Regions from separate parts of the Homo sapiens genome. Here region 2 is linked to region 1. A link means that fine-mapping ties the variant in region 1 to the expression of a gene that starts in the linked region. Tissue or cell type: whole blood. Region 1 holds a variant in brackets; the other region holds the start of a gene. All regions are shown on one strand. Distances are between the middles of the regions. Region 1 overlaps JAK2 (Janus kinase 2). Region 2 holds the start of JAK2 (Janus kinase 2).

Region 1 (2,500 bases):
AATAGCTATTCGGTGGAGCAGTCAGAACATATACAAATTTATCACTTAAGTTCACCATCTTATATAGGCCCAGTGTGTGGTGCCCCAAAACAATTACAGTTGACCCTTGGACATCACAGGTTTGAATTGTGTGGGTCCACTTATATGCAATTTTTTTTCAGCCAAACATGGATGGAAAATATAGTATTCACAGGATGCAAAACCTGCATATGTGTAGGGCTGACATTTTGCATATATGGGTTCTGCAGGGCTGATTTCAGAACTTGAATATGTTCAGATTTTGGTATATGCAGGGGTCCTGTAACTAATCCCCCTTGTATTCTGAGGGACAACTGTACAATAGTTACATCAAAGGTCATTGATCACAAATCACCGTAACAGGTATAATAGTAATAAAGTTTAAATTTTGTGAAAATTACCAAAACATGACACATAGGAAGTAAGCATATGCTATTGGAAAAATTGCACTGATAGACTTGTACTTGCTCCACTTAAGTTTGTCAGAAACCTTCCATTTGTAAAAAAAAAAAAAAAAAAAAAAAAAAAAAAAGGTCATATCTGCAAGGAGCAATAAAGGGAAGTGCAGTAAAACAAAATGTGTCTGTATATCAATAAGAGGGATACTAGTTAGTGAACTGCTAGTTCAAAGGGTATGAATATTTACAACTTTGATAGATTATTAAAATACTTCTCAAAAGGTGTTTCCAATGTATCTGTACACCTGTTTTCTTGTATCCTTTGCCAACACTGGATGTTATCAATCTTTTAATTTTTCTGCCAAATCAATGGGCAAAATAATGCTGTCCTGTTATATTTCATTTCCTTAATTAGAACCTGAGATTGAGCAATACCTCATGTGTTTATAGGTCAGCTTTAATATTTATACTTCTGTGGATTGCCTTTTCATGTCCTTTGACTAGTTTTCTTTTTTTATTTTTAATTGTTTTATACGTTTTATTCCCACAATGTATGTTAGGTATATTCCTTTGTTATACATGTTTGTAATCTCCAAGTCTTTTAATTTTGTTTAGGATACCTTTTATAGTACTTGTTTTTTTGGCTATTTGTGTTAGCTAAATACCTTTTATAGTTCAAACATGTCACATGCTTGTCTCTTTATTATAATTTTTGGTTGAGGACTCTATTCTGTGTTCTCTTTATGATTATGTAAATATTGTTCATTGCTGGGCCAAGAAATATGCTGTAATCACATTTTC[G/A]TTCTTATATAACTTTTTCCAGGAGTTAATTATTGCTTTATGATTTTTCCTTTGTATCTAGCTTTATTTTCATTTTCTACAAGAACTCTGTAAAGTAGTGGACTTCTCAATACAAAATTTCACATAATCAAACCTGTCATATATGATAGCATTTTTACTTCTTTTCTGGAGAAGTACCTCTTCGATCACAGCATCTTACTTTGTAGTGTGGACTGGAAGTTTTCTGGGTACAGCTATTATTTTGTCAGCTGTAATTTTTGGTCATTCCTTTCTTATCCTGGTAACTATGTTTTCATCTCTCTTATATTGGATCTGATTTTCTAAATCTCATGTTTGCCCTGTTTTTCTAGGTACAGCCTCTGGTATTTGTTGGTATCTTTAATGTGATTGAGACAAATTAGAAAATTAATTTAGAGAGGATTTTTACATTTTTATGATATTGAATTTTCCTACCATGGTTAATCTTCTATATATTTAAATAAAAAGTTGCATAAGAGTGTTTTGAAGTTTTTGTTAATTATTGATATTGCATCCTCTTTGTTACAAATGGGGCTTTTTTCATTATATAACTGACTTTTTGTATGTAAAAATATAATACGTCTATATATTTTCCCATGTAAGTAACATGCTGCATTTTTGGCTGACTACATGTTCACATATGTATTAAGATACAATCAGGCCGGGCATGGTGACTCACGCGTGTAATCCCAGCACTTTGGGAGGCCAAGGCGGGCGGATCATTAGGTCAGGAATTTGAGACCAGCCTGGCCAACATGTTGAAACTCTGTCTCTACTAAAAATACAAAAATTAGCCGGGCGTCTTGGCGTGTGCCTGTAATCCCAGCTTTTTGGGAGACTGAGACAGGAGAATCGCTTGAACCCAGGAGGCAGAAGTTGCAGTGAGCCAAGATCGCGCCATTGCACTCCAGCCTGGGCGACAGAGCAAGACTCTGACTGGGCGGGGGCCACAAAAAAATCATAGCATAGCTACATATCCTAACATTTTAGTTTGTAGCATGAATACTTTAGCAGTATGTAATTGGTATGTAGGGCTGATGCCGTGGCTCACGCCTGTAACCCCAACACTTTGGGAGACTGAGGTGGGTGGATCACTTGAGGTCAGGAGTTGGAGACCAGCCTGGCCAACATGGCGAGAACCTGTCTTTACTAAAAATACAAAAATTAGCTGGGCATGGCGGCATATGCCTGTAATCCCAGCTACTCATGAGGGTGAGGTGGGTGGATCGCTTGAGCCTGGGAGGTGGAGGTTGCAGTGAGCCAAG
Region 2 (3,020 bases), 78 kb before region 1:
CTTATGTAAGAAGAAATGCAGGAGTTGCTTTGGTGAGGTTTATTTAAAGAAACCATTAAGTGCAAGACAGACCTGAAGAGCAGCATCAGTTGTGTATGGGGAAACAGGAGCTATGAATGCGTCACTTCATTTAGGTTGACAGAAAGAGGGCTAATACTTGAAAAAAATCCCTACACGATCTGGTGCCAGGCTACTTCTTTGGCCTCACCTCTTACCACTGCCCCCTCCTTCCGTGTCCTCCAGCCACAGTGACCTCTTTCCTGATCCTTGAACTTGCCAAACACTTTCCCTTCTCAAGGTCTTTGCCTTCAGGAGTCCCTCTGCCTGAAATTCTTTTCCCAGATAGTCATGGGACTGGTTCATTCTCATCCTTCAGATCTCTGCTCAAATGTCACTTATTCTAGGAAATCGTTCCTGGCCACCGTAAAATAGCACACCCCCTCCTCACTTTCTACTCCTTTTCTTTGTTATTATGTATATGGCAGCAGAAAACTATGCATTTTCTTAGTGGCAATTACACACCCCGCACATTATGCATTTAAAGCGTTGTTTGTTGTTTTGTCGCTTCCATCAGAATACAATCCAGTAGGGCAAGGAGTGTGTGGGGTCGTGTTCACCTGGTATCTCTGGGGACCTACAGCCCGGCACCTAGTAGACACTCAGTAAATATTTGAATGAATGAATGAGGCCCTTTGGCAGCCGGGAAGCCCGTCACAGCCGTTGTCTCCACCCTCTCCCGGGCTACACCAGGCCACGCCGGTAAAGTTGTTTCTCCTCTAGGAGAAACATTCGCTAGGCCTTGTTGCCAACCCGCAGGCGGCTGGGCGCTTCATCCCACCCTCACCCCTTTCCAGCCAAGGTGGCTGATGGGAGTCAGGCTCTCGAGGGCGCATTGCCACGAAACAGCGTGTGTGAGCGCGTTGTCCCCGGCCCCCGGCGCCACTTCCCCTCGGCCTAGCAGCCTGGACTGGGGAAGGACGGGTCTGCTGTACCCGGGAGGTGGAAGGAAAAGCCGAAAGCGGAGAAGTGTGCGGGAGGGGAGTCTCCGCGCGGAGGCAGCCCGGCCTCCTCCAGTGCAGGCTGCGCGCTGGGGAGCCAGCCAGGGTGAGTCACTCCCGGCCGCTTCCCTGGAGGGCGGCGGCCACACACACACCCGCCCATCTAGTGAGGGCCGGGCCCAGCGCTGGCGCCTAGCTCCAGCCGGGCACCAGCGTTTCGCGAGGCGCCGCCGCCTTAACTTCCTTGCGCGCTCACGCCCAGGGGCCGTCCCAGGAATCTCCACGCGCGCTCGCCGGCTTCCCGAGAGGCAGCTGCCCTGCGTGGCCCGCGCCTGCCGGTCCCGCGACCAGCACCGAGCGGCGCACGCGCACTGCAGGACGCGCGTCCGGCTCTCCCCCAGCCTCTATCCGGCCCGGTCTCCTGCCATTCGGGGAGACTGCAGGCCAACCGGGAGGCTGAGTTCGAAGCTAGCAGGGCGGCGAAGCCAGTGTCGCCCGCGGCGTTGAGAAGACGGTGTGGCCCCGGAGAGGGTGGAGACAACTGTGACGGGCTTCCCGGCTGCCCGAAGTGGGAGTGGTGTGGGGCTGCAGGAAGGAGAGAGGAAGAGGAGCAGAAGGGGGCAGCAGCGGACGCCGCTAACGGCCTCCCTCGGCGCTGACAGGCTGGGCCGGCGCCCGGCTCGCTTGGGTGTTCGCGTCGCCACTTCGGCTTCTCGGCCGGTCGGGCCCCTCGGCCCGGGCTTGCGGCGCGCGTCGGGGCTGAGGGCTGCTGCGGCGCAGGGAGAGGCCTGGTCCTCGCTGCCGAGGGATGTGAGTGGGAGCTGAGCCCACACTGGAGGGCCCCCGAGGGCCCAGCCTGGAGGTCGTTCAGAGCCGTGCCCGTCCCGGGGCTTCGCAGACCTTGACCCGCCGGGTAGGAGCCGCCCCTGCGGGCTCGAGGGCGCGCTCTGGTCGCCCGATCTGTGTAGCCGGTGGGTGTTATCTCTGCCTGGCTTCTGGGTGGGGGGCAGCAGCTGTCTCTCCACCCCCTTCCTACCTTTTGGTCCCGCCTGCCCCCTGCTAGTGGCAGCAAACTTCTGAGCCAGAAAAATCTTCCTCTTTAAGACGACACCTAGAACGAGTCTTGCTGGTGATATTTGCTTCCATTTGTGTCTTATAATTCCCTCGCTCCCGCCTCCTTATTCCTTTTTAAAATTTTCTAGACACTTAAACAGCCTAGAAAAAGCATTTGTTTCCCCTGGATTTATGTGGTAGTAGTTAACTGCTGCTTCTGTTTTTAGGTTTCAGAAGCAGGCAACAGGAACAAGATGTGAACTGTTTCTCTTCTGCAGAAAAAGAGGCTCTTCCTCCTCCTCCCGCGACGGTGGGTGTGCTGTCCTTTATCGCTGCAGTAAAGGCGAAGGTGTCTGGAGCTGGGAGTGCGTGCGTAGGGAAGGTTGGAAGCGTGTGAAGAGAGGCAGGGCTCATTGTTGCTTACTCTTCTGAAAATGTCAGTGCTAAACTTTTAATGTTGATCTGGGAGAGTAATTTTGGGGTGTTTTGTTGTTCGTCTTGGATCCTTTAAGAAACATTTTTTTGTTGGCTTTACACATAACGTGACTTTGCAGAGAAACGAAAAACGTTGTCCATTACCCTTTCTTCTTAAGCAGCCAGAGATTCTTAATCCTTTAAAGAGGAGTATTTCCAAGCAATAAGAGATAGCTTTTGGGAGAACACGTTAGCTATTCTTGCTGGGGTTTCTGCTACCACATTGAATGTTTCCTCATGGTTTTATCTGCCTAAGCTTGCTGTGTCGGTTGAATTTACCCAGTTTGTTTTCCAGTAATTACTAATCTGTTAGGAGAAACTCCATTTCTCTGAATGAAAGGGTAGGAGCGGCTGAGTATGGAGAAGGAAACTGGAAGTGGGAATAAGGGAAATGATTGCTTTTGGTTTCATAATAAGTTTGTACAGTGAGTTGTTGGGCTACTGCAAATAAAGATTTTGTATCCCTTCTCCAGAATGCTTGGGACCAAAAGTGTT

The links.
Region 2: JAK2 starts here. The variant in region 1 is fine-mapped to the expression of JAK2 in whole blood (TOPMed, PIP 0.92).

The regions. Positions count from the first base shown.
Region 1 is chr9:5,061,982-5,064,481 of GRCh38, forward strand. The region is part of intron 8 of JAK2 (Janus kinase 2); the gene reads left to right. It also overlaps a transcript of INSL6 not described here. Among named protein-coding and RNA genes, the nearest start is that of JAK2, 78 kb to the left of the region's middle. The variant G/A (reference allele first, on the strand shown) is at 1,218.
Region 2 is chr9:4,983,662-4,986,681 of GRCh38, forward strand. It overlaps JAK2 (Janus kinase 2), which reads left to right and starts at 1,611. Exons shown (of 25, transcript NM_004972.4): 1 at 1,611-1,969; 2 at 2,279-2,361. RefSeq lists enhancers at 662-1,495, 1,424-1,563, 2,364-2,413 and silencers at 1,144-1,193, 1,234-1,313, 1,704-2,033.